2 separate regions of the Homo sapiens genome follow, and region 2 is linked to region 1. Evidence: fine-mapped expression QTL. A gene starts in region 1. The other region holds a variant in brackets. All regions are shown on one strand. Distances are between the middles of the regions.

Region 1 (8,345 bases):
GCACCCCTGATTAATTTTTAATGTATCTTTATGAGTTTCCTCAGTGTTAACCACAATCCAGGTGGGGTGTACAAATTTAAAACAAACAAAAAAAAGTCTTTCAGGAATGAAAAATAATGTAAGCTGAAATCAATATTTATGAAGTTGTGATTAATTGACTGATGACCAAATGATTACAAAATGTCTGTCTGAAACATCTACTCAAATTTATTAGCTTTGACCAAAAAAATTAAAAAACAATCCAAACTGGGTCAATGAAAGAATAATGCATTCCTAATCAATTTTTAATAGCACTTAAGATTTTATATTTTTTTAAACTTGCTTTTAAATAATTTATCATCAAAATGAATCTGATTTAAACATGGGGTAAAAGGTGTTCCATAGCTATTTGATGGTTTTCTTAGCAAAGAAATTCAATTATGACTGACTTTTTATTACTGAGACACTTTATTAATAATAATACATCTTGCACTTACACAAAGGCATTGGGCCAACATTCTCAGAGAGTCCAGCAAATGTGATCTAGGATTTAGCCCCAATTCTACTGTTATCTGGTGATTTACCTTATGTAGGCCTTGATTTCCTCATCTGTGAAAGGAAAGGCCTGCATAACAACCCCTAAGAGCCATTTTAGCTCTAAATGTTTATAATTCTAAGGATGTAGGACAGCTTTAGCCCATTCCAGATGTCAAATGTAATAGAACTCATCAGATCACAGGGCTGCTCAAAAAGCTACCAAGATGTGGTGATCAAAATTAAGCAGCAGTGAACCACATAATTTTTGTTTTCCTATTAGGGTAATGGTAGGATCTTTTAGTGATTTGGGCCAAACGACATCTATTTAGAACATGAATTGTCAAAAAATGGGAAATGTCCTTCACAGAGCAGAGAAGAGATAATTCCTGACCTTAAGCCACTTGCATTATTAAAAGCAAAGCCTGGGAACTAGCCTGGCATTCATCTGGACTGAGGAAGAGTCCTAATCAATCTATATTGCTAACAATATTATTTGGATATGTGTGTGCATGTGTGAGGGCATATGTGTATTGATTCATAAAACATTAAGTGAATAAAGCAGGTATGTTATGCTATGACCTTGTTTGTGCTTATGTATACAGTAATAGATGAATTAGTATGTTTTAAGGATATGTTCTAGAATGTTAATAGTGATTTCTACACTGGATACAGAGGTGAGGCAGAAATATGGAGGAACTTTTACTTATTTTATATACTTTTTAATGGCTTGTTTTTCTTAAAATGAGCATGTGTTATTTTTATAATTCTCAAAAAGCAATAGAATCTTCCATTTTGAGATTAAAAACAAGTAAAGAAATTGTTTAAAATAAAACAGCCTGAGTTTATTATAAAGGTAGGCTGTAGCAAATGAGAATATTACTATTTGTGGAACAGTAACCTATTACAGACATTAGATAAATTGGATGCAATCCCTGACCTCAAGAAACATAGCCTGTTGTGGGGACAAACACATCACCAACTATAATACAATGTCATCAGCACAGAAATGGCTGTATGGACTGTGCACTGAAACACTGAGAAGCTGTGACAATGGTATGAAATGTGGAAAGAGATGTTAGAGATAGTCTAAATTTTAATACTTTACTTAAAATGCAGGATATGATTTTTAAAATTATCTTTGTGACTACATATTGACACCCATCAACAAGATGATTTACAAGGAAATGAACTTGCCCCATTAAGTAATGGGAAATGTTTTGAAAAGAAATGTCTTTACAATAGAATACTATTGAGCCATAAAAAATAATAAAATCCTGTCATTTGCAACGGCATGGTTGAACCTGGAGGACGCTGTGTTGAGTGAAACAAGCCAGACACAGAAAGACAATTACCACATGATCTCACATGTACAATCTAATAAAGTTGATCTCACAGAAGTAGAGTGCAGAATAGTGCTCACGGCTGTAATCCCAGCACTGTCGGTAGGTCAAGGAGGGGGGATCCATTGAGCCCAGGAGCTCAAGACCAGCCTGGGCAACATGGGGAAACCACTCCCCGACCCTCGAGGCAGGCGGATCACTTGAGGTCAGGAGTTGGAGACCAGCCTGACCAACAGGGTGAAACTCCGTCTTTACTAAAAATACAAAAATTAGCCAAGCATGGTGGCGCATGACTGTAATCCCAGCTACTCGGGAGGCTGGCTGAGGCAGGCGGATGGGATCGCTTGAGCCTGGGAGGTCGCTGTGTTGGCACCTAGTGGTGACAGAGCTAGACCCTATCTCAAAAAACAAAACAAAAGTTGCCAGAAGCCATGGAGCTACCGTTTAGGTAGGAAGTTGTTGGGGGCAGGGATTTCCGCTGAAGCAGCCCAGGTCCAGAACCCCTTTCTCTTAACCATGAGGCTGCTTCTTGAAGTCATACTGCGTCTTTTTCACAAAGATTAGTAAAAGTTGTCCCGATGGTCTTGTCTTTAAATCTCTCAACTCACAGATTTTACTTGTTAGCGTAATTTATCACATCAGCTCTTCCTCGCTTCAAGTAAGTTGCAGATAAATTCCAAATTTGTTATACTGCATTTAAGATAAATTTAGGAACTTTTAGGTTTTTTTCTTTTTTGTTGGTAGGAAACGCAACTTATAACCTCACAAATTCTCCCTTGGGGTTCAACAACACAGCGGTACATTTCATATGCAACCATGCACCTGAAATGAAGACGTGAAAACGTTAATCTCCTTTTGGTGGAAAACCCAGAGAAGCCCACAGTAAAAATGTATTTTCAGGGAAAGCTGCGATTAAATGTATCAGGATCGTCTCGGACACAGATAAGGAGACAATCACTGTTTTCTTAAGTGAATTATTGTGCCCTCTGGAAGCACATTATATTGAGTGGAAAGAGAACTGACAGAGGTGGAAAGCTGTTTTGAAAAAAATTGAAACGTGTAGATAATGTCTTTTCTCTATGTTTTGATTACGCTGTGTTGGCGGATGTGTGGGGTTTAATAATTAGGCGAAAAACTCTCCATCCTTCACCCCATCCAATCCCCGAAAACAATTTGGGGATTTAAAAAATCGCCTTTCCGTATCTTCCTCTTCTGTCTCCACTATTCCGCTTTCCTTTAGATTTTCCAAGATCCTCGATACTTGTAGTAAACTACCTTCCTACACATTCGCAGGAATCTTGCAGCTCCCTAATCAGTGAATTTTCTTTCTTTCTTTCTTTCTTTCTTTTTTTTTTTTTTTTTTTTAATGAAAGGAAAACGCCTTGGAGATCGCGCGTTTCGAAAGCGCGTTTTCGTTTTCTCTCCTGGGCGGGTTATGGCCCTACCGGGGCGCCGTAGCCGGCCCGCGCGTGCCCAGTCTTGGCGAAGAGTAGCGGTAGGTCGGCGGGACTTCCGTGTTGGCGGGATTCTGAACGCTGCCATGGCTCAGACCGTGCAGAATGTTACATTGTCGCTCACTCTGCCCATCACGTGCCACATTTGCTTGGGGAAGGTAATGGGTGATTGTGGGCACAGCTACAAAACGGGGTTGGATAAGTCGCTCGCCGGGGCCGAGGGCCGTCTCGTGCGGGGGCGGGGAAGGGGCGTGAGGCGCGGAGATGGGAGAAAACGCTAACCCGCGTTCTTGATGGGAGGCCGCGTCCTGGGAGATGGGGGTAGCGCACCGTGATTAATGGATTCATCTGGGCGCCTTTCGGAGGAGGGTGACAGCGGCCCGTGGTCTGCCGGGAGGGCGGCGAGACGGCCCTGCCACCGCCCGCGGCCTCACACTGGCAAGACACCGGCCTCGAAGGAGGCCCCATCAGAAACGCATCGCAGGGATATTTAACTTCCCTCTGCAGCCTCGCGTGGCGTGTAGTGAAGCCCATTAAAACACATTTCCTGGGAGCCTCACCTCGGGCTTCTTAGTCCTCTGTAACTAGTGTTCATCCTCTGGGGCCTACGGTGCTGTGTATTGAGTCTTTTCCATTTCCAAGACCTTTTGCCTTTATCCTGGCCTTGAGGATGACCTTTGCTCTGAATTCCTAATTTGAAAAGTAAATAGTAAGTGCTCCTGGAGGGTATTAGAATAAGAGGTGTGGCTTTTAACTCCAAGAATGGGTCAGTCAGGAGATAGAATACTCTCTCTTTGTGATGCAAGAGGTGCCTAGTGTGTTTGTGAAACAAGGTAGGGAAAGTGGTTCTGAATTAGAAACGGAGCTTTGAATATTCTAATGCATTCCTCTCCTCTTTCATTTCCATTTGTGCCTCACTTTCGGTGTTTTAAAGAGCATTTCTTTACCGAATAGATAAAGAAGGGGAAAGATAAACCACCAACTTTTTTCCACCCTGAATTATTTTTACGTCTGTGGTGTGTCAGGGTGTGTGTTTACCCCCCAGCGCAGACTGAGCCGTAGACTCAGATTTGAGAAATACAAACTTCTAGAGCAAGCATTTGAGTGCCGGCCAATACGATCTGCCTGGGGTGTTTGAAGTTCTGTGTGAATTTACTGGATTCAAAAAGTAGAAGAAAGTCAGCATTGGAAGCAACTGATAATTCTGGATAGCAGTCAGAATGAAATGCCAATGAAATAGCAAATGTGCTGGGAGATCATGGATTGGGGATGGCTTGATCAATTTGGAGAGATCAAGGATGGCCTCATCGAGGATGGTGTTTGAGCTGGCATTGAGCTATTACTTACTGCCTGCACGGCTAGGGGGAGGGAAGAAGCGATGTTTCTATTTGCCACAGTCTACATTTGGCTCCTGACATAAAGTTCCTGGAAATATGTGTTAAATTCTGAGTTAATTTCCTCCAACACTGGCTTTAAAGGCTGATAAAAATATTCTTGGGAAGTATTTTGTACACATTATATATAGTTTCCATTAGTTATAGGCTGTCTTTTGCAATTGTATTGACAGTGTTCTGTTTGATTTACCAAACCTATACTTTTTGTATTTAACGAGAGTGATACCTCATAGAATATAGTGATTTGCAGACTACAGAGTGCTTTTGTATGCATATATTATTTTGTTTACTCTTCACACCAATGCTTTAAGATAGGGCTGGTTTTTCCATTTTTAAAATAAGAATATTAAAGCTTAGAGTCTGTGGTTGAACCTCTATACTATCATTTGTGTCTTCAGAATACTAAGACTTTGAGTCTTCATAGTTGAACCTCTATCATTATTACCATTTGTCTTCAGATTACTTCGTAAAACCCTCACCTAAGTTCATCCATGACATCAGGCATTTTTAGTGTTTTTTTTTTCCTGTATTGGTTAACTTTATTCTGAAATAAAAATCAGATAATAAAAATAAAAAGATTAAGACTTTTGTCTTAATCTTATGTGCCAGACTTTATGCTAAACTTTGCACATGCTTCATTTAATCTTCTGAAAACAGAAAGGATGGGGAGTTGATGTTATTACCATATTTCTACTGTTACAGATAAGGAAACAGGCTCAAAAAGGTTAAGCCAGGCGCGGTGGCTCACGCCTGTAATCCCAGCACTTTGGGAGGCCGAGGCGGGCAGATCGCCTGAGGTCAGGAGTTTGAGACCAGCATGGCCAATATGGTGAAACCCCATCGCTACTAAAAATACAAAATTTGCTGGGTGTGGTGGCAGGCGCCTGTAATCCCAGTTGAGGCAGGAGAATTGCTTGAACCTGGGAGGCGGAGGTTGTAGTGAGCTGAGATCGCGCCATTGCACTCCAGCCTGGGCAACAAGAGTGAGACTTTGTCTCAAAAAAAAAAAAAAAAAAAAAATTAAAAATAAAAGAAAATTAATTAATTAAGGATTTTTAAACAGGCTCCTCCCCCCCCCCCCCCAGGTACCATGGAAGCAGAAAGGATATGTGACTGAGGGCCTGAGTTCTACATTCAGGCTAGCCGGGTTCTAATCTAATCTACCACTTACCACTCATACAACCTTTTACAAGTTACTTAACTTTTTTTCTTTTTTTTTTCTTTTTTTCTGAGACGGAGTTTCGCTCTTGTTGCCCGGGCTGGAGAGCAATGGCGCGATCTCGGCTCACCGCAACCTCCGCCTCCCGGGTTCAAGCAATTCTCCTGCCTCAGCCTCCTGAGTAGCTGGGATTACAGGCATGCGCCACCACGCCCGGCAAATTTTGTATTTTTGGTAGAGACGGGGTTTCTCCATGTTGGTCAGGCTGGTCTTGAACTCCCGAACTAGGTGATCTGCCCGCCTCGGCCTCCCAAAGTGCTGGGATTACAAGCGTGAGCCACCACTCCCAGCTTAAGTTACTTAACTCTTTTGAGCCTGTTTCCTTATCTGTAACAGTAAAAATATGGTAATAACATCAACTCCCCATCCTTTCAGTTTTCAGAAGATTAAACAAAGCATGTGCAAAGTTTAGCATAAAGTCTGGCACATAATGTTTAATAACTGTTAGCTTTTACTATAGCCATTGAGGCCAGCCCTCAAACTGAGGAAACCAGCCTTTTCCAGTAATTGTTCTTCCCAGTTGCTTTGTGAGGCTGGAGCACTTCAAAATGAAGATTTGCATTCCCAACCAAATGAGACCTGTTTGTTCTGGAAATTGCCACAGTACATCCAGAATTTTCAGCTGGTTCCATGTCTCTTTTCTTTTTTATAGTGAAAGCAAATTCAGTATGATTGTGCTGCTCACCCTCCTACACGTATTATACTGTGAGATACTAAAACTGGCGTGTCCTCAGGTTCGCTTCTGCTTCCCTGACATAGAGCATCTCTGGCCACTTCTAAGAATGTTCCTAAGGTCCTTCGTGCCTAGCTCTTTTTTAAAGATAATTGTTCTTGTGCTACTGTTACCATATGTCCCCAGATCTCACAGTCAGCATCTTCTCTTTTGATTATTCAACAGAATTAAGGACCATTATCCCTGGAGGGTCACAAGGTGGATACCATGAAGGGGGAGAGATGAGGGCAGGGCATTAAATCTGAAGAGATAGATGCCAGTGGGGATGGAGAGGAAGGAGAGAGAGCCCAGGTATTCACCTGTTAATGCTTTGTCTTTGCACTTAAAATTGGAAAATTTACACCTCTGTCTCTACTTCAGTTTTAAAGGTGAATTTTCTCTACCCAATAATGTTTTTAGTTACTTTGCCAATATTGTAAGTAAGAGCTCTATGTGGCCTGAAGAAGTTAGGTACCATCCCATGGGATGATTTACGCATAACATATTTTCTTACCTATTCTTCCCTGTTTTTTTTTTGTTTGTTTGTTTCTTAAACTAGTGGGCCAGCAAGCAGAAATGTAGTAATGATCTATCCCAGAGTATCTGTTAAGTGACATTTTGATAGTGCCACCAGGCTGTTACAAACCAGTTTACCTCTAGATAATTCCAGGGTTTATCTTTTCAATTGGGACTCAAGCTGTGAAACCAAATTATGGCATGTAATACTTTTTATTGGCCGTGCATGCATTTTGCCATGAGTGAAAGCCAAATGTGGCCCGCAGTTGGTTTTATGAAAGGGTGAAGGAGATTCTCAAGAGAAATGCAAAGCAACTAATGCTTTTCAGCATTAATGTATCATATTCAGTTATTTCTCATTCGACTATGAGTCCAGTTTTGGGTCCTACCCTTTAAGATAAACAATAAACCAGAGTATTTTGAAAACATTTGGGGGAGAATGAAATTGGGATTGGAATGTAGGTGGACTGGAATAGTGCTGGAATGAATGGATATGATAGGGAATCTTTAATTAAAATATTTTTCATTTGGAAGGGACTCAAGCCTTGTGTGGCTCCATAAAATTATGATTTCTACTTAATATTAAGGGCAAGTGTTCTGGCTGAAATAACCAGAAATGAAATCAGCTTCCTTATAATGCAGGAGTTCCTGTGTCTTGGAGTATCCTCTAGTAGACTGACTGTTTCCCATAAGGAATGCTATCAAAAGGATCCCTTCTTTCAGGGATGCCTCTCTTCTTCTCACCCATATTGTTTATTTAAAATATTGAAAATATAGGGCTAGAGACAAAGCCTTATGCAACTTAGAGTCCTCACTCTAGGATGACAAAATTCATTAATCACTGTTCACTTGGAGCTGTTGATTGATCAGCAAGTCATCCACGTCAGTACATGGAGCCCATGTTTGAGTCCTGATTGCCTCTCAGTTCCCAAGAGTGGATTTAAGAACCAGCCTTGTACATAATTGTCATAAGTAATTTGCTTTGAAAAAAAGCCATATGGACTGCAAGTTCTACATTTTTCTCTTTTTTCCAGTTGAAAATAAGTTTGAAGGATTCACTTTCAGAAAAGTATAACAATATTGCATTTTATACATAGTGTATAATAAGTTAATTCAAAAATCGTAGATGTATCCTAGTAATTATCAGGGTTGGTATGTAATAGCTGACATACTTACTTGACAAGTACAATTCCA
Region 2 (8,345 bases), 30 kb after region 1:
ATGGTTACCTTCTTGTTATGTCTTTATATGGTTGGGGGAGAGAGAGAAATCTGGTCTCTTTTCCTCTTAAAGGAACACCTAATGACCTCATTTAGCCTTAATTGCTTCCTAAAGATCTTTTCTCCAAATACAGACACATTAGAGGTCAGGGCTTCAACATACGAATTTGGAGGGGAGGGTGAGGACATGGCTCAGTCCATCACAGAACATATTTCTTTCTAAGATGCTCCAACAGATACCATGCTATTTTCCAAAAACTTGACTAAAATCTGGTACGAACAAAGGAGATTTACATTGGTCTCAAGAACATGGTATTGTATAAAAACGAATATATTTTACATACAATCTTTTAAAAACAATACCATAATCTTTTAAAATGAAGGTGTTGGTTATCATTTGTCTCCTCTGCTATACTGTACCTGGACATTTTTCCTTCCTCAATTTTAACTTAAAAGCCCTCTTGAGCAATGTGGCAGATAGCCTACTAAGCATGTTCTTCTAGGTTTCAATAATATTCATCCTGTTCCTTGCCAAAAATTCATTTGTCCTAATATCCAAACTCGTTGTCCAGAAAATGCAGTCTTTTCCTTTGGCTTTATTTAGCCACTTTCTGAATCCTTATTATGCTTCTGAATTTATTTCACCTGGAGGAAACCACCTGTTTGGCCCTTCAGTTTCCCCTAACTTGGACTCCTAAGAGATTTGGATTTGATCTTCAGAGCTCAAGGGGTGGTGATATGACCTTTAAGTTTACAAGAGTAATATGTGAAGAAGACTTACTCCACTTGCCAACCCAGAAATAATGAATTTTTTCTTACTTAACATTGTGCTAGATGCTTGGAACAAAATAAATACTCTCTCTGACCCCTAAAGAAGGTTGGGTTCCCTTGCTGTGATTTCTTATTACTTGTACTTTCCCTTAGCAAATGTCACAACTGCTAATAATTAACACTTTGTGTAATTGTTTTATGACTTTGTTCTGTTTGAGCAAGGGCTATAATATGTAGTCACTATTGCAACCACTGCATTTTATAGGATTCTGGCTCCCATGCTGCTCCTACTACGTATCTATTGAGTAAATGAATGAAAAAAGCATAACTCCTATGACTGAGGAAACATACAGACAAATCCAGAATGTGGGATACTCAATAGGAAAAATGACTAGGTTTCTTCATTAAGTCATTGAGGGAGGGTGCTGCTTTACAGTAAAAAAGAACTATGAAACATAATAACCAAATGCAATGTGGACTTGTTAGCATACTGATTAGTAACAAACTGTTGAAAGATATTTTAGAGGCAGCTGGGTAAATTTGAATATGAAGCAAGTATTAAATGAAATAATAGCAAGGAATCACTCTTAATTTTGTTTAGGTATCATGATTACTTAAGAAAACACCATTTATGTTAGTCCTTTTGGGCTGCTATAACAAAATACCCTAAACTGATTGGCTTATAAGCAACAGAAATTTATTTCTTACAGTTCTGGAGGCTTAGAAGTCCAAGATCAAGGTGCCAGCTGGTCTAGTGAGGCCCACTTCCTGCTTCATAGACAGCTGTGTCTTTTTGCTGTATCCTCGAATGGCAGAAAGGACAAAGGAGCTTTGTGGGACATCTTTTTAAGGGCATTAATCTCACTTATGAGGGCTTGAACCTTTTGACCTATAGGCCCCAGAAGCCCTTACCTTTAAATATTATACCATCACCTCCTATTGGCCCTGCCCCAAATACCATCACTTTAGGGATTAGGTTTCAACATAAGAATTTATGGGGGACACAAACATTTAGTCTATGGCACCATATTTTCTTTTGGAAATGCATCCTAAAACATGAACTATAGAATACTTTGGCAAAAGGCAAAGGATATAATACAAAGGAAATAAGACAAAAATCTTGATAATTGTTGAATATGTGTTATGAGTAAATGGGAGTTTATTATGTTCTCCCTACTTCTGTGAATGGTTAGAATTGTTTATATTAAGGAAAAAAACCCCAGCAAAACATGGTCCCTGCTTCCAGAAAAGTAGTTAATGAAGGCATGACATGAAAATATATGAAACAAATGCTTAACAGATACTAAGCCAAATAATAGAGACAGCAGTATGGGTTCAGAGAATGATGGTTAGGTTGCAGGGATAAGGAAGATCTTTATCAAAAAGAACTTAAGCCCAGCTTTGAAGGATGGAGATTTCAGGGAGGAGAAAGGCATTCTGAGTGAGAGAAAACAGCATGTGCTGTTAGGAGTACTAAGCGGTCCCTTCAGCCCCAGTCCTTTTTCTCCAGTAGTAGTAGCCACATATCGTGGTACTACTCAGTAAGCACACTAGCTTTCTTCTCAAATTTACCAGAGCAAAAGTCCATGTAATTTTTACATCTCTCTACTGTGACCATCATCCCTCTATTTTTATAGTTTGGTAGCATGACTCCACTACATCCACCACTTTCTACTCTAAGCAGAAGGGCCTGTTCTCAGTCTGAATATTTAGTGGGGAATGTGAAGCGTGTCACATCCCCACATGGTAAGAAACATCAAGAAAGGGAAGAAGCTGAAGGGAACACTTAAGTACTGGATTTCTCATATTCCTAAATTCCCTTGACTTTAATTACTACTCCTAAACTGTGCCAAGCTATGTGGATATACTTATCCTTGGTAGAGTTAGAAGTTCCTTAGTGACTTTTTTAACTTGAAGAGATGTGAAGAATTGACTTGTAAAGCATTTGAAAGTTCTGTGCCCTCTCTCCATGTCTCTGTTCAGTTGTGCCACTTTTTTTTTCTCTAGCCACTTGAGGCAGGGATCATGCTATGTCACCAACTATTATGAGGATTTAGTAGAGCAGGTATTTTTGTCCTCAGCTACTAACTCACCTTAATAGTATGGGATATACTATTAGGTCATTTATATCAAACTTGGTTATAATTGAATTAATGGCTTTTCTTTCTATAAATATGTATGCAGGAATGTTATGTGTTCTGTCATTGTGTCTTTAGTGAGATCTATGGGTTTGATAATGTCTCCCTGAGTGCAGTTCATTTTACTGTACAGCAACCCCAAGGCTTGTCATTATGGACAAGTCTTCAGCAATGCCTCAGCTCCTTTTGGGGGAGGATAAAGGCTCTAGATACTCTGGGCAGTAAGTAATATTTTCTGTTATTAAGATATGAAAAGAAGTGTTCTGAAGAGGAAGGAATAGACTTCATTGATTGTGACCTGGGCTTGCTTCCTTTTTTGCTCTATTTGTATTTTTTGAGCCATCAGAAATGAAATTTAAAATCAGTTAGCTTAGGGCTTTAATAATTGTCTGCCTATGTGTCAGAGATTATAAAACAAAATCAAAATCTTTGACCTCACATTCTCTCCTGAACTGCAGGTTCATGTTTTCATCTATCTTTTTTGTGCCTTTACCAGAGATTCTATACCTCAAATTAACCACAGAGCACGGTGGTTAAGAGCTTAACTCTGGAATCAGACTTCCTGGATTCAAATTTCCCTTCTTCCATTTTGTCCGTCCTTTCCCTACCCAATTCATTTTTCACCATACTCAAAACTGTCTTTTAATAAAGTACATATAAAATTATTTAAATCTCCTGCTTAAAACTATTCAGTGTTTTCCTAGAATAAAATCCAGACTCTTCACTGGCTAGTCTGCATCTGCCACCTCTTCTTCGTCTAATTCTTAACTCCTCCATCTCATCCTACTCCAGTTCTACTAGACTTTGTTTCTAAAACATGCTGTGTTTATTTCCTTTGCTTAGAATACTCTCCTTGCAGATCTTTACATGGCTGTCTCCTTCAATCCTCAGATGAAGGGAAGCCTTTTCTGATCATTCAATCTAAAGCAGCCCTTTCACTCAGCACCTTCTACTGCCTTAACAGAAGACCATAATAATAAAATCATGGTTGGGTAAAACAGTAGAGCATGGTGATTGTGAACACAAACCTTGGAGCCAGACTCCATATGACCGAACACTAATCTTGCCTACTTACTAGCTCTGTGATTTAGACAAAGATATTTAACCTTTCTGTATCTCAGTTTTTGTCTTCTGTGCAGTAGGGTTAATAGTACTACCTATCTTGTAAGTAATAGTAAGAGTTAAATGAAACTTAAAATACCCTTTTAACAGAGTCCATAGTTAGCAATTAATATTATAGTATTGTCTTCACAGCCATTATCACTGTCTGAAATTGTCTTGTTCATTTAATTGCGTGGCCTGTTTGTTGTCTGTCTCCTCCATTCTAAACTCTAAGCTCCATTTTAAACTCTAAGCTCCTTGCTGCCTATCCCCTTCATTTCCAAAGCCCCCAGTATCTGAAGATACCTGATAAATATTTTTTGAATAATTGAATGAATAAACAAGTAAATAACATTGGATAAATTAACCTTGAAGTCTTTTTTTAACATAAAATGAGGGTGCGTTATTATGAGGATTAAAGGAAATCTATTACCTTGACATGATGTGTCGTATAAAGAATGGGAAGACAAAATAATATAAATCTTCTATAAAGATACATGCTTGCATATGTTTATTGCAGAACTATTTACAATAGCAAAGACATGGAACCAACCCAGATGACCATCAGTGATAGACTGGGTAAAGAAAATGTGGTACATATACAGCATGGAATGCTATGCAGCCATAAAAAGGAATGAGATCATGTCCTTTGGAGGAACATGGGTGAAATTGGAAGCCATTATCCTCAGCAAACTAGCACAGGAACAGAAAACTAAACATCACATGTTCTCACTTATAAGTGGAAATTGAACATTGAGAGCACATGGACACAGAGAAGGGAACAGCACCCACCAGGGCC[G/TG]TTAAGGGGTGGGGGCTGAGGGGAGGGAATTTAGAGGATGGGTCAGTAGGTGCAGCAAACCACCATGGCACACGTATACCTATGTAATAAACCTGAATGTTCTGCACATGTATCCTTTTTTTTTTTTTTTTTTTTAGAATAAATAAAACAGGTAGAGGTGGGATGGGGGAATGTGTATGTCTAAAAAATCATATTCATAATCCCCCATCCCATGCAAAAGATCCGCTTTGTTCCTGTCCTTCTTAATGACTTTAGTACTTTAGTATGTTCTCTATAGCCTACCTTTTTAAAATGCCTCTGTAATCCATCTTCTCATTTTCACTAGTTTAGATCCATATTATTTCTTGCCTAGCCTGTTGTAACAGCCTTTCTACTGCTTACCTTTCTTTCCTGTGCTGTCGCCCAGGCTGGAGTGCAGTGGCACCATCTCAGTTCACTGCAAGCTCCGCCCCCTGGGTTCATGCTATTCTCCTGCCTCAGCCTCCTGAGTAGCTGGGACTACAGGCGCCCGCCACCATGCCCGGCTAATTTTTTGTATTTTTAGTAGAGATGGGGTTTCACTGTGTTAGCCAGGATGGTCTCGATCTCCTGACCTCATGATCCGCCTGCCTTGGCCTCCCAAAGTCTGGGATTACAGGTGTGAGCCACCACGCCTGGCCCCAATATTCTTGGTCTAGTATAAAAGGGTCTTTACTATATAACTTCAGTTTAATATCCTTGCCTCTTCTCTAGCCCCTCGCTTCTTGTGCTCTGCTCTGGCTATGCTGAATTTCTCATTGGGCCCACATTCATCATACTGTATTTTCCCTGGTTCTCCACATTAGCTTCTCTTGTTTTTATTCTTCCTGGTTAATCCCTGTCTGTCCTTTGAGATCTAGCCCAGTTGTTGGTTTATATGTGAGGCCCTCCCTAATTTTCCTAGACAGAGGTAGCATTTTCCTCTTGTACTTTTGATTACTCTTCTTCTACCCTGTTGTTTTAATGATCGTGTTGTATGTTGATCATTTCCATGACTGTCGTACCCAGTTAATCTGGCAGCTCCTTGGCACCAAGACATATTTTTTAAATGCACATTTGTGTATTTGTACAAAATACGTATATATGTGTGTGTATCTTCCTTTTATGGAGTCTTACAGAAGGAAAGAGTCCTTATACTTTAATACTTGAAGCTTAAAGTACAAAGGATGTAAGAAAACAGGAAATCAGAGATTCCTGGAACTTTCTCCACATTAGAGCAAAGGATTTCTGGAAGCTTTCCTCTTTAAGTTATGCCAGAGATTCAGAGTTAGAAAGAGAAACAGAGGAGGTGATAGTAGGGACTTGCCTGGCTATAGTCTTGAGTTTCTTGTCCGCATCTATTTACTTGAATCAGATTTTCCTTCCTTTACCTGTCTCCATGCTGACTCTGAGCTGTGCAGTTAGTTCCATTTCACAGGTCTGCTCTTTCTAAACTATGTCTCAAGATGTGCTAGTAATGCTCTAACCTTTTGGTTCCTCATCAACACTGCTGGTCTGGCTGGCTCTTGCTGTTGTCCCTTCTTGACCTATTCTGGCCTTTTTTGTTTATCACGATTCTTCTCTGACAAATGTGGTGATTTCCTAGTATTTGACCCTAGCCTGATCCAATGACTGATTCTGCTATGCCTTTGGTTTTCCCGGAAGGGGAACTTGTAGACTGTCAGGGGAGCCTGATGATACCCTGGGGCCAGACTGTGACAGCCAGTTGTGCTCAGGCCCCTTGGCTGCCTGAGGGACCCTTCTCTGGATATTCACTTAATTGGGGATAGACAGGTACTGCAGTTTTCTGTCAGTTTGTCTTTATTGTATTGATAAGGTACTTGGGGAGGCGGCAGTGCATGCTAATGACTAAGCAGTAAGGTTGTCAGAGAGATTATGAACTGTTTGAGAAGAGGAATGATCACTTCTACTTCCTTTGTTTTCCTTCTTCATAGCCCCTGAGCACACATTAGTCCTCAATAACTGTCATCTGAGTAATAATTACAGGGTATCTAGATCAGTTTTTTGTTGTGTTTCGTTTTCTTTTAGATTTTGTTTCATGCTGAGAGAGAATAAGAGATCATTTAGTTAAGGTGGAAAATGTATAGACAGGTAGATACTAATCCAGAGATTTTTAAGTATATTTTTTATCACTCAACAGTAGTTGCACTCTTTTACAGTATTGAGATTTTGTTGTTAAGGTTATTTTATTTTGGGAAAAGATGTAAGTCCTTTAATTTCTCTTAGAAATAAAAAGATATGAAATAGCATGTCTTAATTTTCTCTCCTTTCCATGACAGATTAGGATCCCTGTTAATGTCCTGCAAATTTCAAGGCTGATCTTGGTTGGTTGAAGGGAGCAGAGGGGAGAAAATGAGGGCATTTCTGCATGGAATCAAAATGAGATATATTTGTCAAATAGAATAGAATTTATTCCACAGTAAAAAGAGTAGTCTGTCCTCACAGGCAATGCAGAGAAAGTAGTACTTAGAGTTAGGCATCCTGTTTTGGGCAACTTTGCCCAGTGTGCTGCCCAGAGAGAAGGAAAGAAACCTTGGAAATGGAGGCTAACTAGTTGCAGTTTCCAAACAGAAGGCCAGAGACCATGTTCCAATTGCCACAGAAGCAAGTAGGGTGAAATTGGCCAGCATGGAACACAGTTTAGTTCTGTATTTCTCCTTATCCACCTGCTGACCCAATACTATGTGGGTCAGCCCTTAGAGGTTTACCACAAAAGGGAGCTGTCTGTTCCTCTTCAGTTCACATATGCTGTTCAACACTCAGGTCATTTTTATTAATTTCTAAGGCATCTCAGAATTTTCACCACAGTTTTTTAACTACAAATGCATAGTTGGTTTAATAAGATAAACACACAAAGAATTTCCTTTAAAATTTTGTTCTGCAGTGAGCCGTGATCATGCCACTGTACTCCAGTCCTCCAGTCTGGGTGACAGGATGAGATCCTGTCTCAAAAATAAATGAATAATATAGTGTTAATAATATAAGCTATTAATTATTAACCCTGCTCTTCATTTGAAAACTTGAAAAGCAAACTCTACTTTGATTTTTAAATGGTACTTTTAGAAGATGGAGGGATAAGGAATTACTGCAAGGGCATAATTCTTTGTCTTGTTCCCCTGTCTTTATCAACTTTGTCTTTAAGGGTGAAATTCTGGCATTTTTTATTCTTGCAAATATTGGAACACTTTCTGTTTTGTGATAAAACTAAGATGCAACATAACGTAGCTTGTATTTTTTTATTTCTCTTAATTATACCCTGAGAAATAACCCATGTGATGTTTAGGCCTTAAAATTTTGCATTTAGTTTTTCTCATTTCATATAAAAAACATCTTTTACTTGTAGTTGAAGATACCTGCTGATTGTGCATGAACCAGGCAAGTTTATCATACATACTTTCTATACATAGCACATTTAAGTATTATGCTTTCAGCTCTGTTTCAAACTTAGTCTTTATATCTCTGGTTAAATATTTGGGTTGGCATTTACCAGGGTGGTCTGTCAATGCTGTACTTTCATGC

Evidence for each region.
Region 2: its variant is fine-mapped to the expression of OBI1 in whole blood (TOPMed, PIP 0.99).

The regions. Positions count from the first base shown.
Region 1 is chr13:78,654,172-78,662,516 of GRCh38, reverse strand. OBI1 (ORC ubiquitin ligase 1) reads left to right here and starts at 3,362. Exons shown (of 6, transcript NM_024546.4): 1 at 3,362-3,468. The coding sequence starts at 3,397. RefSeq lists enhancers at 4,004-4,083, 3,994-4,954.
Region 2 is chr13:78,623,908-78,632,252 of GRCh38, reverse strand. All of the region lies in intron 5 of OBI1 (ORC ubiquitin ligase 1), which reads left to right. Among named protein-coding and RNA genes, the nearest start is that of POU4F1, 25 kb to the right of the region's middle. The variant G/TG (reference allele first, on the strand shown) is at 4,809.